Homo sapiens: one gene and its partners. The protein of the gene in region 1 interacts with the protein of each later gene in a biochemical or structural test. Each region holds a gene or a part of one and is shown on either strand. Other genes may lie near its edges. The genes, in order: CDC25A, NAA10, CSNK1A1 and FBXW11.

Evidence for each region.
Region 2: the proteins of CDC25A (region 1) and NAA10 form a complex in vitro, tested with the Homo sapiens proteins (one study listed by BioGRID).
Region 3: of the proteins of CDC25A (region 1) and CSNK1A1, one has a biochemical effect on the other in vitro, tested with the Homo sapiens proteins (one study listed by BioGRID).
Region 4: the proteins of CDC25A (region 1) and FBXW11 form a complex in vitro, tested with the Homo sapiens proteins (2 studies listed by BioGRID, with this or other methods).

The regions. Positions count from the first base shown.
Region 1 is NC_000003.12:48,171,417-48,178,446, reverse strand, and holds part of CDC25A (M-phase inducer phosphatase 1), read left to right. Parts: intron 1-458; coding exon 459-593; intron 594-1,004; coding exon 1,005-1,076; intron 1,077-3,989; coding exon 3,990-4,163; intron 4,164-7,030. UniProt on the Homo sapiens protein: Tyrosine protein phosphatase which functions as a dosage-dependent inducer of mitotic progression. Directly dephosphorylates CDK1 and stimulates its kinase activity. Also dephosphorylates CDK2 in complex with cyclin-E, in vitro.
Region 2 is NC_000023.11:153,932,038-153,939,631, reverse strand, and holds the start of NAA10 (N-alpha-acetyltransferase 10), read left to right. Parts: upstream 1-4,594; 5' UTR 4,595-4,727; coding exon 4,728-4,748; intron 4,749-5,156; coding exon 5,157-5,255; intron 5,256-5,630; coding exon 5,631-5,689; intron 5,690-7,047; coding exon 7,048-7,093; intron 7,094-7,200; coding exon 7,201-7,316; intron 7,317-7,516; coding exon 7,517-7,561; intron 7,562-7,594. Other genes in the region: RENBP (N-acylglucosamine 2-epimerase), read left to right, coding at 4,056-4,143, 4,228-4,346. UniProt on the Homo sapiens protein: Catalytic subunit of N-terminal acetyltransferase complexes which display alpha (N-terminal) acetyltransferase activity. Acetylates amino termini that are devoid of initiator methionine.
Region 3 is NC_000005.10:149,499,428-149,506,457, reverse strand, and holds part of CSNK1A1 (casein kinase I isoform alpha), read left to right. Parts: intron 1-862; coding exon 863-1,011; intron 1,012-7,030.
Region 4 is NC_000005.10:172,003,631-172,011,459, reverse strand, and holds the start of FBXW11 (F-box/WD repeat-containing protein 11), read left to right. Parts: upstream 1-4,821; 5' UTR 4,822-4,957; coding exon 4,958-5,002; intron 5,003-7,829.

The DNA of each region.
Region 1 (7,030 bases):
TTACCCTTTATTCCCCCCTGTCAGAACTGGAGTTATATATAAGTGCATTCTCTAGGCCATTTTATGGTCTTTATAGAGATTTGCATCTGCTTGCCCTAACTCATTTCAGCAGATTCTCATACTGTCACAGTCCTCAATGCTGATCGGTGTTCACTGATGCAACCTTCTAATAAAAGAAACCTTGTTCTTCACAAGAGGCTATCTCTAGTACCCATTATAAGGTGAATTGCTTCTGGCAAGAGTTCTCTGTAAAGGCTACTGACTACTCAGGGCTGTGTGTGGTCATCAAATCATTTATAATCTTGGGATACATTTTCATATAATCAGTAATGGCTAAAATTTTGCTTTGTATAACAAGTATAACATAGTATGTTTTCATCATAAAAACTAGTGACCCATTCAAGGAAATGAAAGTGGATCAGAGCTCTCATTATTAATCCATGAATTTTGTCTTACAGCTTTCCTCAAATGAAAGAGATAGCAGTGAACCAGGGAATTTCATTCCTCTTTTTACACCCCAGTCACCTGTGACAGCCACTTTGTCTGATGAGGATGATGGCTTCGTGGACCTTCTCGATGGAGAGAATCTGAAGGTACCGTGTGTGTGTGTGTGTGTTCCTATTTGTTCTACTAATTAATTACCTCTGGAGAAGGCATGTGATGTGAAAAAGAACAGCAACAGCAGTTCCCCGGGGCTTGCTTAGCTGATATTTTTGTTCATTTGGTGATAATTCATTTAATAATAGGGCTACCAGCCTTATTAAATCCTTTGGATTGGGGGATGGGGGCATCAAAAGAAGACACATGATCCTTCTTACCCTGAAGGAGCTAACTAACAATCTATATGCAAGAAACATGAAATCAGAACGGTATAGGATGGTACATTAAGGATACTTCCTATCCAGGCCTATCTGGTATTGTTCAGGGAGAAACACACCTAAAGCACTTAAACAAATGTTAGTCTCTACAGGCTCTTTTTAAAATCAGTTTTTCTGTTTCTTTAGAATGAGGAGGAGACCCCCTCGTGCATGGCAAGCCTCTGGACAGCTCCTCTCGTCATGAGAACTACAAACCTTGTGAGTTGTTCTAGTGTGTCTGGAGGAAGCCCTGCGTGATTGGGGCACTGGACAGAGTAGTCCTTAGTTGAGTATAGCCAAAGATTGAAATGCATGATAGGATTTGGGGATCTGGGTTTTAGGCCTCACTTTGGCTACCTACAAATTATGACCTTTAGTCATGATATCTCTCTGCATGTCTCCTGATGTATAAGGAGTGTGGGTTAGGAGGGACCATGGTCATTCCTAGCTTTTACCATCTAGTCAGTTTGAAAAAAGCCTATCTGAAGCCTTTAGCCTGAATACTTTACTTTTTTTAGGTTATTCTCATTTATATTCCACAGAACCTAGCATAAAATTAGACAAGCAACAGTAACTCACAGGATTTTTTTTGTTTCTGTGTTTTTTGTTTTTTTTTTTGAGACGGAGTCTCGCTCTTGTTGCCCATTCTAGAGTGCAGTGGCACAATCTTGGCTCACTGCAACCTCTGCCTCCCAGGTTCAAGTGATTCTCCTGCCTCAGCCTCCCGAGTAGCTGGGATTACAGGTGCCTGCCACCACACCCAGCTAATCTTTGTATTTTCAGTAGAGACGGGGTTACATTATGTTGGCCAGGCTAGTCTCGATCTCCTGACCTCAGGTGATCTGCCCACCTCGACCTCCCAAAGTGCTGGGATTACAGGCATGAGCCACTGTGCCTGGCTGGATGTTTTTTGTTGCTGTTTTGTTTGTTTGTTTTGTTTTGTTTTGTTTTTCATTGAAAATACCTACCTGAGGCTGGGTATTTTCAGGTAGATATTTTCGATTTTAAAAATTATATATAATATATATTTTATATATATATATATATATATATATATACTCACACACACACATACACAGTATAGATTTGTGTTTCCATCAGGGATACTTTCAAACAGAAAGCATAGTATATGTAGATACAGAATCTATAGTGTATGTGTGTATATATATTCAAAATCACATATATATACACACACATACACATGCTATAGATTCGTGTTTTCATCATAGGGATACTTTCAAAGTTAGAAGCAAGAATGTGCCTATACAGATATATACACCTGTATGTTCAGAGATATACACCCTTAGGTACACATCTAAATTGATAAGTTCATATTTTTTAATTCTCAATAACCTGAACTATAATTACAGAACAAATGAGCTACAGTTTTTTTGTTTGTTTGTTTTGTTTTGTTTTTGAGACAGAGTCTCCCTCTGTTGCCCAGGCTGGGGTGCAGTGCAGTGGTGTAGTCTTGACTTGCTGCAACCTCTGCCTCCTGGGTTCAAGTGCTTCTTCTGGCTCAGCCTTCTGAGTAGCTGGGACTACAGGCTTACGCCACCACTCCCGGCTAATTTTTTTGGTATTTTTAGTAGAGACGAGGTTTCACTATGTTGGCCAGGCTGGTCTCGAACTCTTGACCTCAGGTGATCCATCCACCTGCCTCCCAAAGTGCTGGGATTACAGGCATGAGCCACCGTGCCCAGCCAAGCTACAGTTTTGAGATCACTTATGGATTATAGTACATTCATGTGCATAGCTTTTGAGAAAATATGTTAACGCAGTACAAATGTTATGAGTAAATTTACCAGGTCATTTTGATAGGCATAAAATTACATAAAATGTGAGAACACTTTGGAAGTGGCTGTTAGTTTTATAGATTTGATTTTAGAGTCATAAGCATGGGCTTGTAAGCTCTTAATAGTGGGGAAATGTCTTCCACAAATGGTTATTACAAACTAACCATTGCTGGGAGCTGTAATGGAAAATAAACTTCACACAAAAGAGGAAGAAAATCCCCGGTCTCTATGGGAGCAGATGTGGGAGTGATCCATTCTACTGGGGACTATCAGGAAGATTTCAAAGAAGTGACATTGAAATGTTAGCATCAACTTGAAAATGAATGGTTTACTGAGATGTGAAAGGACATTCTGTGCAGAAGGAAAAGCCAGGCCAAGACACATGGAGTCGAGAATAGGCTGAGATGCGTTTAGAGAGCTGACTCTTGCTACCACTGGTCAGATTGGCTTCCCTTGGGCTCTGGAAAATTTGTCTTTATTTATTTATTTATTTATTGAGACAGAGTCTTGCTCTGTCACCCAGGCTGGAGTGCAGTGGTGCAAATCTTAGCTCACTGCAACCACCACCTCCTGGTTTCAAGTGATTCTCGTGCCTCAGCCTCCTGGGTAGCTGGGATTAAAGGCACGCACCACCACACCTGGCTAATTTTTTTGTATTTTTAATAGAGATGGGGTTTCTTCATGTTGGCCAGGCTGTTATTGAACTTGTGACCTCAAGTGATCCCACAGTGTTGGGATTACAGGCGTGAGCCACCGCGCCCAGCCTGGGAAATTAGTCTTTAAAAGACCAAGTAGAAAAAAAGACTTTGAACACAATTTTGAAAGGCATTTGCTACTCTGCCCATCCCCACTCCCTCCAAATTTACCATCTTAACTATACCTTAACCAAAGATGCCCCCATTTTTATTATAACCTGGCTACTGTGCATCTTTTCTGGATTTAAGTGGGGTATTTAAACCCGTTGACCTGCTTAATTAAGCAAGGTGCAAGTAATAAAATGGAGGGGAAGATAGGCAAGCCAAAAATGTGTTCCTGACTGGAAGGTCACACTTCTCTTGACGCAGGATTATGTAGACAGTTTTTGTGAGGGCAAAGGACGTTTTGCTCATCTCTATATAATGTCAGCTGAGTATATATTCATTGAGCACTAAGTGCTCAGTGCCTACTATGTGCCAGGCCCTGTGAGAGTTGCTAGGACTAGATGAATCGGCAGTGTCTGTTGGCTAATTTAGAATTGATCTTAGATCATCCCAGGAAACCTTCGGTTTATTTGTCTTACCATTCAAGTGAACAGGTTTTAATGAAAGATGGGTCTGTCTGTTTTTTTTCCTGTAAGGACAACCGATGCAAGCTGTTTGACTCCCCTTCCCTGTGTAGCTCCAGCACTCGGTCAGTGTTGAAGAGACCAGAACGATCTCAAGAGGAGTCTCCACCTGGAAGTACAAAGAGGAGGAAGAGCATGTCTGGGGCCAGCCCCAAAGAGTCAACTAATCCAGAGAAGGCCCATGAGGTTAGTTTCCTAGGTTCCTTTTTGCTCTAGCACAGATACTGTATTTTTCAGTTCTAAAAATTTCTACTTAGTGGTTCATTTATTTTCTTTGCTAAGATTTGCTGGGGTTTTGTGGGGTTGTGTGTGTGTGTGGGTGTGTGTGTGTTTCTTTTAATAGAGATGGGATCTAGCGATGTTGCCCACGCTGGTCCTGAACTCCTAGCCTCAAGTGATCCTCCTGCCTTGGCCTCCCAAAGCACTGGGATTACAAGTGTGAGCCACCACACCTGGCTGATACTTGGCTGTTTTCATGTTGGTTTTTCATTTGCTTTGAGTATGTTCATAATTGCCTGTTGAAGCATTTTTAAGATGGCTGCTTTAAAATCTTTGTAAGACAAATCCAACATCCATCCATAGTGTTGTTGGCATCTGTTGATTGTCTTTTCCTGTTCAAGTTGGGATTTTTCTGGTTCTTGGTATGACCGGTGATTCTTCCATTGTCTCCTGTATATTTGTGAGTCTCCGGTCTATGTAAATTTTACGTTTTAGCAGGCTTCCTCTGATACTGCAAGAAAGGCATGGGTGGAAGTCCGGGTTCCCCAGCACAAACTCCATTGACACCTTGGGTGGGGACTTGTCTCATTATTGCTGGGAGGGAGTGGAAGTTCATTCCATCCCCGTGGGGTGGTGACTGGGGCACTGTATGACAGCTGGGCAAAGGTGGAGGCCCCCGCTTGCTGTTGGCCATAATTGTTTCTGTGTTGACTAGTAGAATGATTATTGTCTAAAAGTCTTCTGCCTCAATAGGCCATCCTTTGCCTAGGGAGAGCAGGCTTTTCTTGGGGCTTGTTGTGTTGCTGTCTCCAGCTTCATGAGTTGAATGGTTAACTCATTCGTTTTTAATTTTCTTATTTCTGGATAAATCTATTTGAATCTATGAATTTCCCACTGCTTTAGATTTGTCTCATAACTTTTGACCTGAAATGTTTTTATTATCATTTGTTGTAGATATTTTATTTCCTTTTAATCCAGACCTATCATGGCCTATTAAATACTTGATTTTTATAAAGGTCTGTCTTTTTTTTTTTTTTTTTTGAGACGCTCTGTCGCCCAGGCTGGAGTGCAGTGGCGCGATCTCAGCTCACTGCAAGCTCTGCCTCCCGGGTTCATGCCATTCTCCTGCTTCAGCCTCCCAGTAGCTGGGACTACAGGACCCCGCCACCACGCCTGGCTAATTTTTTGTATTTTTAGTAGAGACGGGGTTTCACAGTGTTAGCTAGGATGGTCTCCATCTCCTGACCTTGTGATCCGCCCGCCTCAGCCTCCTAAAGTGCTGGAATTACAGGCGTGAGCCACTGCGCCCAGCCCTGTCTGTCTAATTCTTCAAGTTAATTCATTGCATTGCTCATAGTTGTATAGGCTGTTTTGTTGTTTCCTGTTTCTGAGACAGGGTCTCTCTGTCACCCAGGCTGGAGTGCAGTGGCATGATCTCCGCTCACTGCACTCTCCACCTCCCAGGCTCAAGCAGTCCTCCCACCTCAGGCTCTCAAGCAGCTGGGACTATAGGTGTGTGCCACCAAACCCAGCTAATTTTTGTATTTTTTGTAGAGACAGGCTTTCGCCATGTTGCGCAGGCTGGTCTCAAACTCCTGGGCTCAGGGCAATCCTCCCGCCTTGGCCTCCCAAAGTGCCAGGATCATAGGTGTTAGACACAGCACCTGGCATGGGTGAGCTAGTGTCATGGTTGTCTGGGCCTAAGTCCTATGGTCCTTTGTGTTATTTTTTCTATTTATTCTGTGGCTAGACACACAAAACACTGGTTTATTTGTATGTTTTTCCTTCATTATACTGTCCTTATATTGAGGTTTGGTATTAAGCATTATAAAATGGTGAACTACCTGTGTTTTCTGTGGCATGAAAAGGTTTAAGTAAATCTCATCACAGTCTTAAAAGGTTAGAGAGATGACAGCTAGGAAAACATTTAGCATTTAGGCCTACTGCCTTATCGTATCTGCTTTTGTTTTTAATGCTTTATGAATGTTTTTAAAGTATTGTTCTAAAAGAATATTTTAATAATTGCATAGTATTTTTGTTTTGGGAGAGTTGTTTGGTTTTGGTTTTTGTTCTTTTTGTTTGTGGGGGGCACAGGGTCTAGCGCTGTCACTCAGGCTGGAGTGCACTAGCACGATCACAGCTCAGTACAGCCTCCATGGGCTCAAGCACTCCTCCCGCCTCAGCCCCCCTAGCAGCTGGGACTACAGGCATGCACCACCATGCCCAGTTAATTTAAAAAAAATTTTTTTTTATTTTTTGTAGAAAAGAGGTCTTACTGTGTTGCCCAGGCTGGCCTTGAATTCCTGGGCTCAAGCAGTCCTCCCACCTCAGCCTCCAAAGTATCTGGGACTACAGGCACAGGCCAGTGCACCTGGCCGATAGTGTTTTGACTTACAAGTATACTAGAAATAATTGAATAAATCACCTTCTGGACATTTAGAATTTCCCTTCCCCTGATTTTCCTTTTATTTCTAATTAAAAATGAAATTCTGGGTTATAAGGGCAAGAACATTTGTGAAACTTTACATTGTATACATGTCAGAAAATATCTATCAATATTTAATAATATTCTGGCTGAGTGCTGTGGTTCACTCCTGTAATCCCAGCACTTTGGGAGGACAAGGCGGGTGGATCACGAGGTCAGGAGTTCCATACCAGCCTGGCCAATATGGTGAAACCCTGTCTCTACTGAAAATACAAAAAATAGCTGGGTGTGGTGGTATGAGCCTGTAATCCCAGCTGCTCAGGAGGCTGAGGCAGGAGAATCGCTTGAACCCGGGAAATGGAGGTTGCAGTGAGCAGAGATCACGCCACTGCACTCCAGCCTGGGTGAT
Region 2 (7,594 bases), on another chromosome or scaffold:
CTGGGTCCTGGGGCTTGGAGGGGAGGGTGTTATGGGGGAAGTCTGTAGGGAACAGGGCAGAAGCTGGGACAGCAGAGGAAGCTGTAGCTGTCATCCCAGCCAGTGAGGGCTGGCCCAGGTGGGAGCTGGTGGGGACAGAGGGTTCACAGTCTGGTGGAGCAGCAGTGGGATTCCTGAGTCTCCAGTTCAGACGGAGAGATCTGGACTCACCATGAATGTTTTCAGTATCACAAGAATGTAGATGCTGCCTGGCACAGTGGCTCATGTCTATAATCCTAGCACTTTGGCAGGCTGAGACGGGAGGATCGCTTGAACCGAGGACTTCAAAACCAGTCTGGGCAACATAACGAGACCTGGTCTCTACAAAAAATTTTAAAAAATTAGCTGGGTGTCATGCACACCTGTAGTCCTAGCTACTCAGGAGGCTGAGGCAGGAGGACTGCTTAAGCCCAGTTTGAGGCTGCAATGAGTTATGATCACACCACTGCACTCCAGCCTGGGCTGGGCAACAGAGCGAGACTATGTCTCAAAAAAAAAAGGCCGGGCACGGTGGCTCACGCCTGTAATCCCAGCACTTTGGGAGACTGAGGCAGGTGGATCACCTGAGGTCAGGAGTTCAAGACCAGCCTGGCCAACATGGTGAAACCCCATCTCTACTAAAAATACAAAAATTAGCCAAGCGTGGTGGTGGGTGCCTGTAATCCCAGCTACTTGGGAGGCAGAGGCAGGAGAATCGCTTGAACCCAGGAGGCAGAGGTTGCAGTGAGCCGAGATCGCACCATTGCACTCCAGCCTGGGGGACAAGAGCAAGACTTGGTCTCAAAAAAAAAAAAAACAAAAAAAAAAAAACAGTACAGATGCTGCTGAGATCTATGAGGCAAAAAGGGAAATGGGGGCCCAGCAAAGGAGACAAGAATCAGTGGTGACGCAGGAAGAAAACCAAGCCAGGGGCTCCCTGAAGCCCAAGTGCTAGGAGCAGAGTGATAAGCTGTCTTGACTGCTGCCCAGGAGGCAACTCGAGCTGCTGAACACAGGAAAGGGCATGGCACCCAGTGGAAAGGGCATGGCACCCAGTGGAAAGGGCATGGCACCCAGTGGTGGCAAGGCCTGGGTGGTGAATGAATGAAGATTCATCATGCGTTTCTAAAGCCACGACTCCGACTCCACTGGTGAACCCTGGTACTGCGAGGACTATAGCAGGGGATCTTATTCTGGGGTCTGTGAGCTTCGAAACCGGGGGCGGAGAATCACATCTTTATTTGTACTAACCTCTAACTGAAACTAGCATTTGCTGCCATTATGAGTGGAGGCAATGAACCACATTGGTAATAGAAGTGCCTGGCTTTGTCACCGATAGAAATCCAGATGTGTTTACATTGCATTGCAGTTAGAGAGACATCTGCAAGTATCACATATATTCGTCACTACTTCCAAAGCAGCAGGGTTGTTAGACCTGCAGCTATATCTTAATATTTAATGCATTCATAGAGTGTGTGTTAGGGGCCACCAGTTCTAACTCAAAAATGAAATTGAAGGAATACATTTTAATAAGATATAGATGACATTAAACAATTACAAAAGTTATAATCAACAGGTAAATCGGCTGGGCATGGTGGCTCATGCCTGTAATCTCAGCACTTTGGGAGACTGAGGCGGGTGGATCACCTGAGGTCAGGAGTTCTGGACCAGCCTGGTCAACATGGCGAAACCCCGTCTCTACTAAAAATACAAAAATTGGGCTGGTCGCGGTGGCTCACGCCTGCCATTCCAGCACTTTGAAAGGCCGAGGCAGGTGGATCACTTGAGGTCAGGAGTTCGAGAACAGCCTGGCTGACATGGTGAAACCCCCATCTCTATTAAAAATACAAAAAATTAGCCGGGTGTGGTGGCGGGTGCCTGTAATCCCAACTACTGGGGAGACTGAGGCAGGAGAATCACTTGAACCCGGGAAGCACTCCAGCCTGGGCAACAGGAGCAAAACTCCATTAAAAAAAATAAAAAATAAAAAAAATAAATAAATAAATTAGCCGGGCTTGGTGGCGGGTGCCTGTAATCCCAGCTACTCAGGAGGCTGAAGCAGGAGAATCACTGGAACCTGGGAGGTGAAGGTTGCAGTGAGCTGGGATCACGCCACTGCACTCCATCCAGTCTGGGTGACAAGAGCGAAACTCCGTCTTAAAAAAACAAAAACCAAAAAACTAACCAACAAACAAAAAAACAGGTAAGTCATTATGCATCAACCAACATAACAGAATACAGAAGGCAAAAATCCAGACATTGAAGGAAATTCTTCTTTACCTTCCTGTGTCATGTCAAGCAGTCAAAAAATAAGTAAGGACTTGAACAATGTAACTCAAAAGACAGAATGAATACACACAGAACTAGTTTTTATTTATTTATTTATTTATTTATTTATTTATTTATTTATTTATTTTTGAGACAGGGTCTCTATCGCCCAGGCTGAGTGCAGTGGCACAATCATGGCTCAGTGCAGCCTCAACCTCCTGGGCTCAAGCGATCCTTCCACCTCAGCCACCCAGGTAGCTGGGACTACAGCTGTGTGCCATCACGCCCAGCTAATTCTTTAATTTTTTTTTTGTATAGATGGGGTCTCACTATGTTTCCCAGCCTGGTCTTAAACTCCTGGCCTCAAGTGATCCTCCCGCCTCGGCCTCTCAAAGTGCTGGGATTATAGGCGTGAGCCACTGTGCCCAGCCCAGGACTAGTTTTACTTCCTACAAAGAAGAATACACCAACTCTTATGGGCCACCATTTAAAGAGACATTTTCATAGTGGACTTCAATGTAATTGAGTCCATGATCCTTTTGAGAAGGGGCTGAACTGACAAGCCTCCCTGAGACAGGTGCCCCATGGAATGCTAGTGGAGAGAGAAGGAAAGAGAGTGGAATGGGCACTGGGCAGGGGCAGAGGGAGGAGGAGATGAGTTTGGGACCAATGGTGAGCCAGGACAGGAGTCAGATGAGATTGTGCATCTACTGGAAGACAGGCCTGTGAAGCCGGGAATGGGAGCTCCAAGGGAGTCACTTCTTAAGAGTTTCATGACAGGTCGTCGCCTCCATCAGGGTTCTTTGTTTCTTTTCTTTTCCTTTTTTTTTTTTTTTTTTTGAGACGGAGTCTGGCTCTGTTGCCCAGGCTGGAGTGCAGTGGCGCGATCTTGGCTCACTGCAAGCTCCGCCTCCCGGGTTCACGCCATTCTCCTGCCTCAGCCTCCCGAGTAGCTGGGACTACAGGTGCCCGCCACCACTCCCGGCTAATTTTTTGTATTTTAGTAGAGACGGGATTTCACTGTGTTAGCCAGGATGGTCTCGATCTCCTGACCTTGTGATCCGCCCGCCTCGGCCTCCCAAAGTGCTGGGATTACAGGTGTGAGCCTTTGCACCCGGCCGGGTTCTTTGTTTCTTTGAATCAACGTAACCACGACTACAATCACAATAGAGAACTTTTTTGTTTGTTTGTTTGTTCGTTTGTTTGTTTGTTTGAGATGGAGTCTCGCTCTGTCACCCAGGCTGGAGCGCAATGGCGTGATCTCAGCTCACTGCAACCTCCGCCTCCTGTGTTCAAGCTATTCTCCCGCCTCAGCCTCCCGAGTATACTGCTGGGATTACAAGTGCGTGCCACCACGTCCGGCTAATTTTGTATTTTTAGTAGAGATGAGGTTTCACCATGTTGTCCAGGCTGATCTTGAACTCCTGACCTCAGGTGATCCGCCCGCCTCGGCCTCCGAAAGTGCTGGGATTACAGGCGCAAGCCACAGCTCCCGGCCCGATAGACAACGTTTCTACACCCCAGGGCAGAGTTCTTTCATTCCATCTAGCAGTGTCTCATCCCCTTGCCCAGTCGGTTATATAGTTGTAGCCTGCCTGCTGCGCCCACCCCTGCTTTCATCTTTGTGGAGGACGCAGTGTCGCGGTTAAGATCGCTGGTTCTGGAGCCACGTCACCTGGGGTCAACCCAGGCTCTGACCCCTGGTAGCGATGCAGTGGCATCTGGGCGGGTCCTGCAGGCGCTAGCTGTCACTGTCTCTGTTATTCCAGTTTCGCGATCCCGAGTACGGGGAATGGTTTGGCTACCTGAGCCGAGAGGGCAAGGTGGCCCTCTCCATCAAGGGAGGTCCTTTCAAAGGTGAGTGGGGGAGAGGGCGGGGCCGCAGGGGTTGCGCCTCTCGGCTGCCCCCGGCCCTCACTACCTGCCCGCCTCTACCCGCAGGCTGCTTCCACGTGCCGCGGTGCCTAGCCATGTGCGAGGAGATGCTGGGCGCCCTGCTGAGCCGCCCCGCCCCCGCCCCCTCCCCCGCCCCCACCCCCGCCTGCCGAGGCGCGGAATAAAGGCTGAGTCCGCTCCACCTGCGGCTGTGCGCGCGTCTGTGGGCTCGCGGGAGGGGGGCTGTCGCGCCGAGGGAGGGGCCGGCTCCAGCTCCGGGGCAGCGCCCGCCCCGCCCCCAGGCCCGCCCCGCGCTGACCGGCTCCGCGCATTGGCCCGCCCCGTGCGCTGGCCTGTCCCGCGCATTGGCCAAGCGGCCGGGAGGACGGGCCCGGCGGCCGTGCACTTCCGGCCGGTGGCCGGCCCGGCGCGCACCGCCCCTTCCGCCGTCGCCCAGCGAGCCCAGCTCCGGTCCCAGCCCCGGCCGTCCCGGCGTCGCTTCGGAGCGCGGCGGCAGCTGACTGCGCCTTCACGATCCGCTGGGACCCGCGAGCCCCGCCGCCGTTATGAACATCCGCAATGCGAGGGTGAGCGCCCGGGGCGGGAGGCTGTCCGCGCCGCGTGGGCGCCGGGCCGGGTGGCTGCCGCGCATGCTCCCGAGGGCCCCGGCCGAGCCCGGCCCGGTGGCCCTGAGTGTGCCTGCGGCCGCTGGACCTATGGGGCTGGCCCAGCCCGCCGAAGAGGCCGGGGCGCGGGGCCGGGGCTGCGATTCCCTCCTGTTTGCGTGATGTCGGGCCTCCGTTGGGTGGGCTCCGGGGACCTCCGGGGCGCCCACTCCTGTTCCTGTGCTCCGGGCGTTGTGCAAAGTCAGATCGTCACAGTGCCTGCCCAGCCCCGAGGGAGCGGGGCCGAGCAGACCGACGGGGAGCAGGCTTCTCACCCGTGGTCACCGCCGCCTTAGACTGAGCGCGTTCCACTGCCCTCCTTCCCTGCAGCCAGAGGACCTAATGAACATGCAGCACTGCAACCTCCTCTGCCTGCCCGAGAACTACCAGATGAAATACTACTTCTACCATGGCCTTTCCTGGCCCCAGGTGGGCAGCTTCTGAATTTGGGCATGGGGGAAAGCAGGCCGAGGAAAATCCCATCTGGCCATCTTGGAGGGAGTGGACAAGTCTGTCAGAGCCCAGGGGGCTGTATGGTCGGTGGCGTCCTGGGTGTTTTCAGCTGGCAGACAGGGGCAAAGGAAAAGAAGGCGCCCGAAGGGAGCAGAGAATAGGGGCAGGATCCCCACTTTGCGTCTTCTTTCTGGGTATGGGCAGGGCACAGTGTGGCGAGGGGGAGACCAAGCCACTCAGCCCGGAGGTCATGAGCCATCACACAACTCGCCACTCGTCCAGTTTGTGTCCCTCTAAAGGGCTCTTCTAGCTCCGACAAGAAGTTTTCTCACTCTGTTTTCCTGTCACCAGCTCTCTTACATTGCTGAGGACGAGAATGGGAAGATTGTGGGGTATGTCCTGGCCAAAATGTGAGTCACCAAGGAGGAAGACAGAAGCTACACGTGTCTGGTGGATGCCTCTGTGGGCTTTAAAAAAAATGAATAGGCTTCTTCTTTTCAGTACAGTTGAAAGTTTATAGAAAAATTGAACAGAAAGGACATGGAGTTCTTATAGCACCCCTCAGCATCCCCTCCCTGCCAGCTTCCTCTGTTAGTAGCATGTTGGATTTGTGTGGTCCACTTGTGACAAGTGATAAATGAATGTGATATGTTACTATTATTATTATTACTATTATTATTTGAGACGGAGTCTTGCCCTGTCGCCCAGGCTGGAGTGCAGTCGCGTGATCTTGGCTCACTGCAACCTCCACCCCCTGGGTTCAAGCGATTCTCCTGCCTCAGCCTCCTTAGTAGCTGGGATTACAGGCACATGCCACCACACCTGGCTAATTTTTGTATATTTCAGTAGCAATGGGGTTTCACTACGTTGGCCAGGCTGGTCTCGAATTCCTGACCTCAGGTGTTTCCACCCACCTCTGTCTCCCAAAGTGCTAGGATTACAGGCGTGAGCCACTGCGCCTGGCCGATATATTATTATTAACTAAACCCATAGTTTACATTACTGCACTTCTCTTTGTGTTGTAAGCCCCATGGTTTTGACCAAATGACATGTGTCCACCTTCATATTATCGCAGGATAGTTTCACTGTGTTCCACGCATTCATCCCTCCCTCTCCTTAACCCGTGGCAACCACTGATTTTTTACTGTTTGCATGGTTTTGCCTTTTCCAGGATGTCACAGAGTTGGAATCATACTATATACAGCTTTTTCAGGCTGGCTTTTTTTCACTTAGTAATACACATTTAAGCTTCTGCCTTGTCTTTGCGTGGGTTGACAGCTCATTTCTTTTTTTATTTTTTGAGACAGGGTCTCGCTCTGTTGCCCAGGCTGGAGTGCAGTGGCATGATCATGGCTCACTGCAGCCTCAACCTCCCAGGCTCAAGTGATCCTCTCATGTCTGCCTCCCAAGTAGCTGGGACCACAGGCATGCGCCACCACATCCAGCTAATTTTTTGATTTTTTTTTTGTAGAGACAAAAAAAAGTGTTGTCCAGGCTGGTCTCGAACTCCTGGGCTCAAGCAGTCCTCTTGCCCCGGCCTGCCAAGTAGCTGGAACTATAGGCGTGTGCCCCACACCCGGCAGGCTTGGGGTTTTCAGGCAGCAGAGGGTGGCAGGATCGGCTGCTCTGATCCAAGAGGCTCCCGGCTCTCCCCCAGCTGGGGTCTTAGGGGGCTGTAGTGCATGTCCACTCTACAAATGGCAGGGGGGCTGGAGGTGGCTGTGCCTACACTGAGCTCCTTTGCAGCCTCTCCTTTCTCCCTCTCCAGGGAAGAGGACCCAGATGATGTGCCCCATGGACATATCACCTCATTGGTATGTAAGGTCCACCCAGGCTCTCTGGTGGGGGTGGAAGTGGGGGTTAGTTGGGGCAGCCCTCAAGGTCCCAGTCCCTCACCCCATCTCTGCTCTTCTCCCACCAGGCTGTGAAGCGTTCCCACCGGCGCCTCGGTCTGGCTCAGAAACTGATGGACCAGGCCTCTCGAGCCATGATAGAGAACTTCAATGCCAAATATGTCTCCCTGCATGTCAGGAAGAGGTGGAAGCCGGGCTGAGGGAAGGGGGATTGAGGGGGAGAGATACTGCCTTGACGGGGGTCCTGGGGTACCTCAGCTTTTGGTGAAGATCCAGGAAGTGGGATTGGGGGGAAGGAGGGACCAGGAGGAGGGGCAAGACCTGGACGTGCTACCCCTCCCTGGCCAAATCCGTGCAGCTCAGCAGTGCCTTGTTCCCCTGCAGTAACCGGGCCGCCCTGCACCTCTATTCCAACACCCTCAACTTTCAGTAAGTAGATCTCGATTTTTCTAATGGGCTGGG
Region 3 (7,030 bases), on another chromosome or scaffold:
AGAGACCAGCCTGCCCGACATGGTGAAGCCCCATCTTTACTAAAAATACAAAAATTAGCCGGGTGAGGTGGTGCTCACCTTTAATCCCAGCGACTCGGGAGGCTGAGGCAGGAGAATCTCTTGAACCTGGGAAGCGGAGGTTGCAGTCAGCTGAGATCCCCCCAGTGCACTCCAACCTGGGTGACAATGAGGCTCTGTCTCAAAAGAGAAAAACAAAGAATTCAAGTAATCTGCCAGGTGCAATGGCTCACACCTATAATCCTAGCACTTTGGGAGGCCGATGGGGGTGGATCACCTGAGGCCAGGAGCTCGAGACCAGCCTGGCCAACATGGTGAAACCCCGTCTCTGCTACAAATACAAAAATTAGCTGGGTATGGTGGCAGGCGCCTGTAATCCCAGCTACTCAGGAGGCCGAGGCAGGAGAATTGCTTGAACCTGCGAGACGGAGGTTGCAGTGAGCCGAGATTGCACCACTGCACTCCAGCCTGGGCAACAAGAGCAAAACATGGTCTCAAAAAAAAAAAGAGAGAATTCAGGTAATCTTTTAACCCCAGAAAAGTGTCTTCCCCAGGTACCAGTCAGACATCTTATTCCCAAACTTCCAGTTGAATATTTACTCTTACTTGTTTTTAGGAAGTACCTCCTCTTATGAGTATTCCCCTAGATAACTGACAGCTTGATTTCATGTTTCAGTTTTCATGCTGCCTTTTTCATCTATAATAAGAAATATTTTAGAAGCTGCCACACTTGAGGAAATATTCGTTGTGTAAAGAAATGCTGTCACTGTCTTAAAAAGTTAGTAGGTTATATAACTGGACTCTGTTATTAAAGGATTAACATAAAATATTTTATGTGTTCCAGGACCCTGAACCATCAATATGACTACACATTTGATTGGACAATGTTAAAGCAGAAAGCAGCACAGCAGGCAGCCTCTTCCAGTGGGCAGGGTCAGCAGGCCCAAACCCCCACAGGCAAGCAAACTGACAAAACCAAGAGTAACATGAAAGGTTAGTAGCCAAGAACCAAGTGACGTTACAGGGAAAAAATTGAATACAAAATTGGGTAATTCATTTCTAACAGTGTTAGATCAAGGAGGTGGTTTTAAAATACATAAAAATTTGGCTCTGCGTTAAAAAAAAAAAGACGTCCTTGGAAAATTTGACTACTAACTTTAAACCCAAATGTCCTTGTTCATATATATGTATATGTATTTGTATATACATATATGTGTGTATATTTATATCATTTCTCTTGGGATTTTGGGTCATTTTTTTAACAACTGCATCTTTTTTACTCATTCATTAACCCCCTTTCCAAAAATTTGGTGTTGGGAATATAATATAATCAATCAATCCAAAATCCTAGACCTAACACTTGTTGATTTCTAATAATGAATTTGGTTAGCCATATTTTGACTTTATTTCAGACTAACAATGTTAAGATTTTTTATTTTGCATGTTAATGCTTTAGCATTTAAAATGGAAAATTGTGAACATGTTGTAATTTCAAGAGGTGAGTTTGGCATTACCCCCAAAGTGTCTATCTTCTCAGTTGCAGAGCATCTCATTTTCTCTCTTAAATGCTCAAATAAATGCAAAGCTCAGCACATCTTTTCTAGTCACAAAAATAATTCTTTTATTTGCAGTTTACGTATGATCTTAATTTCAAAACGATTTCTTTGTTTTTGGCTTGATTTTTCACAATGTTGCAAATATCAGGCTCCCAGGGTTTAATGTGGAATTGAAGTCTGCAGCCAGGCCTTGCAAATTGAAGGTAACTGGGGCAAATGCCATTGAAACCGCTAGTCTTATTTCCTTTCTACTTTTCTTTGGCACTCTTACTGCCTGTAAGGAGTAGAACTGTTAGGGCACACTGTTGCTATACAGTTTAACTCCCATTTTCATGTTTTGTCTTTCTTTTCCCATTTCTGGGGCTTACCTCCTGATACCTGCTTACTTTCTGGAAGTAGTGGGCAAGTAAGATTTGGCTCTTGGTTTCTAATTTTTAAATTTCTGAATACTGCCCTAGTCTGAACTTGGCCTTTATAGATTAATCTTTGCTTCACATTTTTAGTGTTGTATTTAAACTATTTTATAATTTAAAAATAGATTCTAATCTGAAGATACTTTTCAAGAAATATTATTAACTGATGTCATCCTCATCCCAGCAGCTCATCTGTTAGGAATGAAGTTGAGATGCTTCTATTCCATGTTTTTGTATTTGGGAAGGATTCAAAGTTGAAGGTTTATTGTCGTTGGGTTTTTCAGATGGTGACATGTAAACTCAGGATAGCAAACCCTAATGTTCACACAGTGCTCTGCCTCTGCATCTCAGTTGGGATAGTTGCTCCTTTTGAGTGTTTTAATCATCGTATAACTAATCATAGTGCCAAGAAGTTCATAATGTGTTATGTAGCTAATGTCACTGAAAAACAGTCCTACCATTTTAGGTAAGACCAAACAGAGTCTCTAACCCAAGGACTTGTTACACCTGACAACCTATAGTATATTTGCTTTTTCTCACAAAATGAAACCAATTTTGCCGAAAGCTAGCTGGGATAATAGGATCATCACAAGTTGCAGTTTCTATAACTAAAATTAGATTGAAATCTCTTCTGACCTAGAACATTTTACTTCAGGCATTCAGCAGATTTCAGAAAGAATTACCTTATTTTAAGTTAGTTTCTTTGTTAGTTTACTGTGTGTCTCTTATTCAATAAACAAGCAGAATTTGTGTCCTGCCCTATCCATGTCTTAAAGATGAGAAGTTGGATCCACTGAGTTAGTTTCATTGGGGCGGGGGAAAGAACTGTAATTAAACTTGTTTAATCCTTATTTTGTATTGTAGCTATTTTTTGTAAAAGCAACTTAAAATCTTTTAAAAATTTTATAGTGACATTAGAGACAATGGTCATACAAATTATCACATAAACATGGACTTGAAAAATTAGGCTTTTCATAAAACACATCACATGTCATTGACTGCTTTTTAGAAATACACTTCCAAGGCAGTACATCTGTATTGCTACTGAAAAGTGCCATTTCACAGAACACAGACTTCTTTTTGCTCTTTGACATCTTGAAAACATCTGTTTTTCTTTTTTAATACAAAACTTTGTGCTCAAGACAAATCTTACATGAAACTCTCATAAACCATGAAAATGTAGCTGGCCTTCGGGCCTTAGGCATGAAATAAGCATGAGGAACATATTCCCCTAACTTCTACCCCCAGCCCAGCAAGTTATCCTTTAAGAAATCTCCTAGGAATTCTGGAGTTTGAAAACAATTGCTCTATGTTATTCCTGCTTCCAGTCTCTAAGTAACAAGGGCATTTAAAAGCATAGTCTCTTAAGGTCCACTATAGTGGTTCTTTATTTAAGGAATAACTCAGCTGGGTGCAGTGGCTCACGCCTGTTATCCCAGCACTTTGAGAGGCTGAGGCAAGCAGATCACTTGAGGCCAGGAGTTCGAGAGTCTGGCCAACATGGTGGAAACCCATCTCTACAAAAAATACAAAAATTAGCCAGGTGTGGTGGCGTGCACCTATGGTCCCAGCTATTTGGGAGGCTGAGGCAGGAGAATTGCTTGAACCTGGGAGGTGGAGGTTGCAGTGAGCCAAGATTGTGCCGCTGCACTCCAGCCTGGGTGACAGAGTGAGACTCTGTCTCAAAAAAAAAAAAAAAAGGAACTCATACAGCTCAATGATTCATTGATCCCAATAATAAATCGTTTTAATAATGATGAAAACATCCTACTGGGGTTTTCTTGTTAAAAACTTTAGGACAGGCGCAGTGGCTCATGCCTGTTATTCCAACACATTTGGGAGGCTGAGGTGGGAGAATTGCTTGACCCTAGGAGTTCTAGACTTGCCTGGGCCACATAGTAAGACCCTGTCCCAGCTCCCTCCAACATCGTCCCCAACCCCCCCCCCCCCAAAAAAAAAAAGCGCCAGGCGCAGTAGTGAGTGCCTGTGATCCCAGCTGTGTTGGGAGGCTGAGGTGGGAGTATCACCTGAGCCCTGGAGGTTGAGGCTGCAATGAGAGCTGTGATCATGCCACTGCACTCCAGCCTGGGCAACAGATGAGACCCTGTGTCACAACAAGGAATTTTTAGAAGGTGCTTTTTATATTACTCTTCACAGAGTTAAATTTTCAGAGGATTTAGTATTATTGAACTAAGTTTCATAAGTGTATTTTAAGCAAGTAAATCTCTAATGTAGGAAAATCCCCAAAATGGTAGCATTTACTAATGTTTTATATGGTAATTTTTGAAAAATATATCTGATATTTCTTCAGTAAAAATGGTGTTGTTTTAATAACTTAATAAGAATGTTTAAAGATTCTTTAAGTCTGGCTTATCTAGCTAATGTGGGCCTATTAAATAATAGGCAGACTTCTGCCTTCCTTATATTCTTTAGATCTTTTCAAATACTCCATTCCAATATCCATCAAAAGACTTCTCTTTATGCCACTTATTATCTATACTAGTTTTTAATGTTCAATTACTACAAGATTATAATTACTGTTTTTATTCATGTTCCCAAGAAAAATACATAAGATTCACACCCAACACACTTCGAAATTTATTTCACTCCCTTTGACTATATGTGATTATCAAAAAAGTATTTTTCAAGATATTAAAAATAAGTAAAGGAAAATGAAATATTTTTAGGACATTCAAAATCTAATGAAGTTCAGTGTTTCTTTAATTGAGGGCAGGCAGAGGTGGGGGAGAATTTCAGAAGGTAGTGAACCCAAAGGTGGATTCTTGGATAATTCTACTATTCTGTACTCTCATCATCTTAACCCATCTGTTTACTACCCTAACCATAGTTACTAAGCAGAGTTTTATCATAATAATATAGACAGCTCTCAAAGTATTGACATTCAGAGGGGATTACAAATATTATTTTTCTATCATATTGACCTACCATGTCCACAGTCTTCCTTGAATTACCTTCCAGTTTTACTGGGCTGCATCTACCGTTTATGTCTAGTTTGACTTTTTCTGAGTTCACCAATTGCTGCTAGGAATGTGCTGGTCACTCAGCAGCACACCCACATCACAGGGGAAGATTTTGAAATACCTGGACAGTCTGAACACACTGCTCTGAATACACTCAATTCTAAGAAGTACCAGGGAACCGCATCTTCTTGCTGAAATCTTGAATTTTTGTCAGCTTTTTTTTTTACTGTGGACAGTAAAGCTGGAAAGATCTAAATAACCCAACAGGAAATGCGGATGAAAGTGCAAGAGTTGGTTTGTGGTCATCTGGAGTCCATGTCTCCAAGACTGCTGGACCTTCAAATTCTGCAACTTGTTAGATCATCTGGATGATAGCACAACTGTTAGAAGACCTAGAAGAATACAGCGTTGCTATGACTCAGTGGTGTTGAATGCAGACCATCTACCAGCTGGGGAAAGAATCAATTATAAACAGGTATTTTAAAACTCCAGAACGTCAGAAATGTGTAGCAGAATGAATTCTGTTATAAGGAAGACAAAACAATTCAGTCTGTTTTTTAATGCAGTTTAGGAATAGTGTATACCTCCTATACTTAAAATTGTCATTTATCTTTCCCAACTTTAAATACTCTTTTAGTTTCTATAGGGAAGGAAGAGTTATTACAGGTTTTTTTTTTTTAATTATTCTTTAACTTTAGATACTGCCAATCTGATTTAAAATTCTCCAAGCTTAATTCTGTGCAACAAACAGAACCACACAAGCAGCCAGGCACTGTGGCTCACTCCTATAATCCCAGCATTTTTGAGGCTAGATGGGAAGATCACTTGATCTCAGGATTTTGAGAACCATCCGGACAACATAGGGAGACCTCATCGCTATTTTAAATAATTTTAAAAAGAAAAGAAAAAAAAAGGCCGGGTGCGGTGGCTCGCTTCTGTAATCCCAGCACTTTGGGAGGCTGAGGCGGGCAGATCGTGAGGTCAGGAGATTGAGACCATCCTGGCTGACACAGTGAAACCCTGTCTTTACTAAAAATACAAAAAAGTAGCTGGGGCCGGGCGCGGTGGCTCATGCCTGTAATCCCAGCAGTTTGGGAGGCCGAGGCGGGCGGATCACAAGGTCAGGATATCCAGACCATCTTGGCTAACATGGTGAAACCCCGTCTGTACTAAAAATACAAAAAATTAGCCGGGCGTGGTGGCGGGCGCCTATAGTCCCAGCTACTTGGGAGGCTGAGGCAGGAGAATGGCGTGAACCCAGGAGGCGGAGCTTGCAGTGAGCCAAGATCGCGCCACTGCACTCCAGCCTGGGCGACAGAGCAAGACTCCATCTCAAAAAAAAAAAAAAAAAAAATTAGCTGGGCGTAGTGGCGGGTGCCTGTAGTCCCAGCTACTTGAGAGGCTGAGGCAGGAGAATGGCGTGAACCCAGGAGACGGAGCTTGTAGTGGGCGGAGATCGCGCCATTGTACTCCAGCCTGGGTGACAGAGCGAGACTCCGTCTCAAAAAAAAAAAAAAAAAAAGAAAAAAAGAAAAAAAACCCCACAACCATGTTATAGGAAAAGTTAGTATAAATGACATAGCATAATTAATATATTCAAAATAACTTTTAAAAAGTTGTCTTGTAGCTTGAAGGGATCCTAAATATCAAAAGCCCATCACAAACTTACAAGCCTTACTGCTACGTAAATATCCCTTTGAACTAGTTTCTGGTTCTATTTAAAAAGTCGAAAACTGTTGAAATTAATTTACGAATAAGAACAGATACACACTTTGTGGGGAGGCTGAGGTGGTAGGATCTCCTGAGCCCAGGAGTTTTAAGTCCAGCCTGGGCAACATAACAGCAAGACCCCATCTCAAAAAAAAAAAAGCATATCTTTTGTTTATTTTTTTAATAGACAAAGTCTCACTATGTTGCCCAGGTTTATTTGGAACTCCTGGCTTTAAGTGATCTTCCTGCCTCAGCCTCCCAAAGTGTTAGCATTATAGATGTGAGCCACCTCGTCTGGGCCAGAGCATACATTTTAGATTTCAGATTGGGTGGCGGGCAGGGATAGAATATC
Region 4 (7,829 bases), on another chromosome or scaffold:
TAATCCCAGCTACTTGGGAGGCTGAGGCAGGTGAATTGCTTGAACCCAGGAGGTGGAGGTTGCAGTGAGCCGAGATTGTGCCATTGCACTCCAGCCTGGGCAACAAGAGCAAAACTCTGTCTCAACAAACAAACAACCCCCAAAATTAGCTGGGTGTGGTGGCACGCACCTGTAATCCCAGCTACTTATGGGCAGCTGAGGCAGGAGAATCTCTTGAACCTGGGAGACGGAGGTTGCAGTAAGCCAAGATTGCGCCACTGCACTCCAGCCTGAGCAACAGAGTTAGACTCTGTCTCAGAAAAAGAAACAAAAAAAAGCCTGGGCACGGTGGCTCAGGCCTGTATTCCCAGCACTTTGGGAGGCCGAGGCAGGTAGGTCACGAGGTCAGGAGTTCAAGACCAGCCTGGCCAACATGGTGAAACCTTGTCTCTACTAAAGATACAAAAAATTATCCAGACTTGATGGAGCACGCCTGTAATCCCAGCTACTCAGGAGGCTGAGGCAGGAGAATTGCTTGAACCCGGGAGGCGGAGGTTGCAGTGAGCTCAGGTCACGGCCACTGCACTCCCGCCTGGGTGACAGGGCGAGACTCCATATATAAATATAAATATAATATATAAAATATAAATATATAAAAATATATAAATATAAATATATATAAATATATAAATATAAATATATAAATATATAAAAATATAAATATATATACACATACATATATATATGTATATATTATATATATGTATGTGTGTATATATATATATATATATATATATATATATATATATATATATATATAGTTACAGGAAATTGCCTACTGAGGTGCCACTAAACTCACCGGGAAGCCACCACCCTCTGAATGTCCCAGCCCCCTTTGTGTGTGGGGAGGAAGGGATGGTTCTATAAGCCATTTGCTGCCATGTGCCACAAAGCAAGAAGGAAAAGAAAGTACACTGGAACCAGGATGAGAAGCCCCTTCATTCTGCTGTGTTCCTCTAGTGCTCTCTACTGACAAAGTTAAACACTGTGCCAGCTGGCAGAGAAGTATTTACAGGATCCTGCTCCAGTATTTCAAAGCATAGAAAAGAAGGTTAGATTTGGAGCTATGAGGTTATAAATTGATGGCAGGCACATACATGTTCTGCTGCAGAAGAAGGTATTTGATTACGGAGTGCTGTCCTGAGACCCCAGAAGGAGTGTTACATTGTACAGTTTATGTAATGCACCATTGTGCCTTTGTACAATCTAAGCAATTCTGGGTTCTGAACTGGACCTCAGGGGAATCACGACCTGTACCACTTTGTTATGATCATGTCTTGCAAACCTCAGTGAAGAGCTATCTGAAACACGGTGGGAAAATATGCCTCAGGGTGTTCTGCCTTTGTCTATGACCAAATCTAATCAACAGCTGCCATCAAGCCTGAAGCAATAAGAGCACCTGAGTTCTTGTTTGAGAAGAGGTGAGAGCAAGGTGATAAAGCCTTGGCTCAGCTTGCCTCTTACGTAGCTTGGATAAGACTTCTTTTATCATATATATAGTGTTTATTTATTTATTTATTGTTGTTGTTTTGAGACAGGGTCTTGTTCTGTCACCCAAGCTGGTCTGGTACCCAAGCTGGTCATTCTGTCACCCAGGCTGGAATACAGTGGTGCAATCATGGCTCACTGCACCCTTGACCTCTCAGGCTCAAGTGATCCTCCCACCTCAGCCTCCTGAGTAGTTGCAGCCACAAGCGTGAGCCATCATACTTGGCTAATTCCTATGTATGAGCTTTTAACCCCACTGAGCTCCTGGAATTTGACCTAATAATATTAGTACTTTTTTCCTTTTAAGGCAGCATACAATTTTCTTTTTTTTTTTTTGTAGATCATGGTGCAGCCACAGAGATGGTAGCCCCTCCCTATGCTCCCAGGTATACGATTTTAATAAAAGGACAGAAACCTTGATTTATCTCCACTACAGTTCCAATGCCAGGGGATGCAAACTCAAATATCTATACAGGTTAGGGATGCAACTTAAATGAGTGAAGCATGCAGATACAAGGCAAAAAGGAGTGATGGCAACTGTGGAAAACCATAGAATATATGCTTAAATAAAGGTAGTTGCTATTTAACCCCTGCATATTGTTGCCATGTAGATCTAATTGTCAGATATTCTAATTTTTCAAGAAAAGCTGGAAATTCAGATTTTGAAAACCTGAACATCAAATTTTAAAAACAGTAAAAAAGACGGTATAGGACAAACATATGTATGTGCCGGGTCGGCGGGGGGAGGGTCACATCCAGCTTGTGACTCCTACCCCATGCCTGTTTTTATGCCCCTGTACAATCCTTTCCCACACTGACTATGGGTGTGGCCATACTACTAGTTTTGGCCAACGGGACATTACCAAGTGTGGTGCATACCAGAGGTTTGATAAGCATTTGTTCACTGGGGCTTGTCCTTTCTCAAGTCACTATGCAGACGTTTGAATGATAAAAAGCCACAGGGAGGAGAGGCCCTAGAAGATGAAAAGTCATTTTGAATGAGTTCCCAGCTGATTGCATGTGGGCCCCGGCTGAGCCCGGGTCAGCCCACACAATTGTAAAATCATAATAAACCATTGTTATTCTAAGCTACTAAGTCTTCGGAGGTTTGTTGTGTTGCAACAGGTAACTGAAATAGAGGTCATATCTAATCCCTTTGTTTTACTAATGAATGTCCTAAGGGCCATAGTGGAACGGACCTGGTGAAATTCAGATAGCATGACAGTGGTAAGAACTTTCCAATTCTGTGCTCTTCCTATTGCTTTTCTTTCAATTCCCTTGGTGAAAAGCACCAGGTAAGGACTATGAAACTTCAAAGTCTACCTGCAGGGAACTTATACTGTGTCCTGAATGCATGCAAATTACTGTAACTTGGTCCTTGGTAATGGAAAGATTTCTAGGTCATCCAGCCTCTTTGACTTTATAGGTGCAGAGAATGCAAAAACACTTTGAGAAAGTGAAAAGCAGCCTCTGATATCTGGAAGCTGGCCTGGTACAATCAGCCATGCCATGATGTTACTAGACCACAGCCTGGCCCTTATAGCTAGGCTTTGTGTTTTCCTGTAGAACAAAAACAATTCCAAAGAACATCAACATCAGACGAGGTCATTCTGTGACCATGATAGATCCAGACAAATACAAGACCACTCTATAATCAGGTCTAAACACGATAAAAAGATAAAACCTGATGATTGTCCAAACCACAAAAAATGACTCAACATCCCCACTTGGCTAATATGAGGGAGCTGCTGCTGCACTTTTTTTTTTTTTTTTCGTTTTTGAGACAAGGTCTGGCTCTATCACTCAGGGTACAGTGGAGTGGTGCGATCTCCATTCACTGAAACCTCCACTTCCTGGGCTCAAGCGATCGTCCCACCTCTGCCTCCCAAGTAACTGAGATGACAGGCGCGCACCACCAGGCCCGGTTCATTTTTGTATTTTTTGTAGAGAAGAGTTTCGCCATGTTGCCCAGGCTGGTCTGGAACTCCTGCGCTCAAGCAATTCGCCTGCCTCGGTTTACCAAAGTGCTGGGATTACAGGCGTGAGCCACTGCGCCCGGCCAGGCTGCTGTTTCTTTATCTGCACAGCTTTAGCCTCAATCTAGAATTCCCTTCCTCTAGATAAGATGAACTGAGATGCTCAATCATGGAACGACCCTCTCTTCCTGACAGTATCTAATCCAGTGAAGCTCTCACTTCCTTAAACCCTCTCCCAAATCACTAACAACTCTTACCGAGAGGCCCTATCGTTCCTCAATGTGTGTTCTCAGTCACTGCAACTAGTAATAAACCCAGCTTGTTCAACGATCCGTGTCTTCCTGGTGGGATTTGGTTAGAGGGCACGGACAGACCTAAGTTACACAGAGTTGGAGGCTGAGTTCACTAGAAGGAGTCTCCGCTTGTGTGTTCCTTCTTAGCCACTCTTTTGGTTAGTGTCTGTCGTCCCTCCACCAGAATTAAGCTCCATGAGAACAGGAGCCTTGTCTGTCATGTTCAGAGCTGATTCTCAGCGCCTAGAACGGTACGCAGCGGAAGCTGGATGCTTAAAAAATAACCATTTTCTGAACGAATGAATGAGGGGCTCGATATACGCACGTCCCCTTTAATCTCGCAGCTCCTCGCAGATCGTGTGACATACAGACAGCACCACAGCACATTTCCCAAAACCCCGTCTTTCCCGAAGAAATCTCGAAACTCTCACTCCTGGGATGCCCATCCTCTCAGAGCCTCTTCCCCAGGCCGAGCTTCTCTCACTCGCTGGCCCCTTCCCACACCTGAGCCCCAGGTCTATACACCTTCCTAACGCACCTAGAACCCACCTGTCTCCACCATCTGCCCCTACCATCAGACACTGCCGGACGGGCCGCGCAGCTACCTAGGCGTCTAGGGAGCACTGCGGCATGGACCGCGCATGTGCGGAAATGGGTCGCATACGCAGGACCTCCGACAAGTGAGGAGTTGCCTCGGAGTTTCCGTCCCGGTCTGGGCAGCCTTGGGCTGCCAGGAAGTCAAGAGAAGCTAGCCGGAAGGACAACCCGGGCGCACGGCTTTCTGGGACACGTAGTCGTGGCGCTCTCGAGGCCCTGCCATGAGCAAGCTCTTAACTCTTCAGGTCTGCACGTCCTACGCCCACCGTCCAGTGCTACTCTCAGCTCGGAGTTCAGCTTCGGGCTGCCAAGAGCCAGCAACCTGGTGTCAGAGGCTCGGTCCCACAACGCTCTGCGGGCCGCGGCGCCTGCTGGGAGGTGTAGTCCCCGATCTGCGTACTGCGTTCGCCGAGGGGGAGGGCGGAGCTGCCGGCGGCCCGGGCGGGCTGGCAGCTAGAGTGGGTGCGATAGCCGCCTCCGCCTCTGCCGCCTCCGCCGTCGCCTCCTCCGCCCGGGCCGTTCGCTGCTGCGCGGGGAGAGCGAGGCGGGGCCGCCGGGGCCGCCATGGAGCCCGACTCGGTGATTGAGGACAAGACCATCGAGCTCATGGTGAGTGCGGCCCGCTGGACCGTCTGTGCTTCCGTCCGTCCGGCCCCGGGCGGGCCTGCCCACCTCAACGTCCGGTGCGAGGCCGGCTCTGGCCCTTCCCAGACGCCTCGACCCAGACCCGGGCCCCCAGCCTTCCCTGGCCTCGGACCTGGCGCGGGCTCCTCTGATCCCTCGACATCTCCGGCCGGTCCTGGCCCGGCCCCCTCCATGCCCCTCGCTTCTCCCCCTCCCCCTGGTCCCGTCTCCGGTCCCAGCTCTCGGACGACCCTCGCTCGTTTATGCTGTAGACTTAGGTCGCACTCGCTCTAGCACCCCATTCTCCTTCTTTTAGAAAGGGATTTTTTTTTCTTTCCTCTGTTTCGGCCCAGGCCCGCACCGCGCTTGCAAGCCCCACTCAGGCCGAGTGAGATGGTGGGAAGGAGTACGGAGATGGGTTGGGGCCGCCTGGGCCTCCGCGTCCTAGGAGAGGTCTCAGCACCCACTCCCCAGCCTAGGTCTGTGTGGATGCCAGGATAGGCCCTACAGAGCTGGGGGGGCAGGGAGCTTTCGGGTTTGAGGCTGTGGCGGATAAGGAGGCCTCTTTCCCGGGCCCTTGTGGTGTCCGGCTTCTCGGACAAAGGGTTTCCTACCCGGCGGAGAGGGATGTTTGCATAGCAAGGGCCCAGGTACTCTGGATTCCATCCTCCAGGAAAGAGAAGGCGCAACTTCACGTTTTCCAGAGCTGCTTTGGGAAATTGGAGATGACTGGGGAGGGAGCCATCCTCATCACTGCCGCGAGGTCTTTCTTCTCAGAAAGAAAAAAAAAAGAGGGGAATCCTTGGCCCCCGGGGGAAGCGACCACTCTTCTGTTAGAAACCACTGGCAGCCAGGCCAGACTCCCGGTCCGTGGACACCCTCCACCCTCCTCCGAAGCTTTAGGATTTGAAACCAGAAGGGGTTTTTAGGAACAGGACAGTGAGAGAGTGGCTAGAAGTGAAGAATTTGCTAATTGATGGATGATTTGGTGGAAGAAATAAAATATGGCAGATATTACCTGCCAACGTGAACATGAGGGAAATCAAATTGGGCTCTGGAGAGCTGGGAAGAGGAAGTCTGCATCAGCAAATGGACATGTCCAGGATTTCTTCCTATGGAAGCCTTGACAGTTTCTTTGTATCTTTCCTAACACGGTAACAACTTCTTCCCCAGGGTTGAGAGGAGAGGTGGAAGAATCTACTTAACCCAGCAAAATGTTTTCCTAGCCAGATTTTCTTCAGTGTGAAAATGTTTATTGAGTCAGTGATTCCACTGGGTAGGGTTGGTGACATCAGAGCCACTTCCCCCATTTAACGCTATAAATAATAAATGGTGACACTGAAAGTCTGTTGGATAGCTGCATGGTTTCTGTGGATGATGGTGTCTGGGGAGTTGAGATGCTTGTTTTAAAAATGGAAGTACAGTAGCATAAATATGGAGGCAGCTTAATGTTTGCTGTCCTTTGCATAATTCACAGAACTGGACTTCTCTAGCATTCTTGAAAACTAGGAGGGAAAAAAAGAAACTGATAGTTTTTGATTTTTGCATGCGTGTGTGTGTGTGTGTGTGTGTGTGCACGTGGGGTTGTTTTCAAAGGGATGTCACATACTGAGTGATTTTTCCTTTTCAGCATAATTTATCATACTTGTAGTCAAGTGTTTGGTATTCTGTAACTTTTGTAGTGGGTTATTTTGGTAACTATCTTAAATCGACTAAGTATATTACATATTCTTAAGAATGTACACACAGTGCATGTACTTACAACAGAAGTACTTCATATCGAAAAATTGTAACTTGGTGCCTCTTTGAAATTGGCTGTTCCCAGCTCCTTCCATTTCTATTCCTTTAAAAAATAACGAAAATGTATTTATTTTCAAAAGAATTATAAGAAATACGTTGTAACCCAAGTCAGTGTATGGTTACAAAATAAAAAAATAAAAACCTTTGGCCTAAATTCACTGGCTTCCTATGCTTATAACTTAAAAAGTTTTGATTTTACATGATAGCACTTGGTTTTGATCAGAAAAGAGATTTCAGCCTGTTAAGGACATTATAAACTGGGATTTAAACTGGAATTCTTTGAAAATTTAACAGAGTTTAGTTATATTACGATTAATTTTAAAATGGCCTTTTATTTAAGGATTTTGATATTTCCTGAAAGGGATATCAGTTAAGACTCTTAGACAACCCTTATCATAAATTAAATATGTGTATTTATTTTAGTAAAGTAGCACAGGTGCTTAACAACTGATTGAGTAAATCCAGGATCAAATGTAGGAAATAATGCCTTAGAATCTAATTGCATGTGGCTTTCTGTTTTCACTGCATTTCAATTACAGTTTCCAGAACTGGGTTAAAAATATTTTTTACATTGGTTTCAAGATAATACGATTGATGGAGGAAAAGGGGTTAAACTGATGGTGTTTTGAAAGCCTAAAGCATGAAATATTTTTAGATTTTTATGAGTCAGCTTCAGTACTCAAATATTTGTGATTGTGCTGCTTGTACCAGTTTGGCACTTAATGCTTAACAAGATAACTTTCATTTGCTGTTCCAAAGTGTGCTGTATTAAAAAGAGGAAACAGACTTCTTGGTTATCTCCATTTTCTAATCTTCATCCCTGTACTTTCCTTAATATTGATTCTTCTGTTTTTCCTTGCATTTTTGATAAGTATATTAGGAAATAAAGCTGGTGATAGCAGAATAGTTAAATTTCTAAAATATAACCCCCACTTTGACTCCTACCGCTGCCTGAGGCCTGGGTCCACCCAGGTTGCTTCTCCTCCTGACCCACTCTATAGGATTCAGCTTT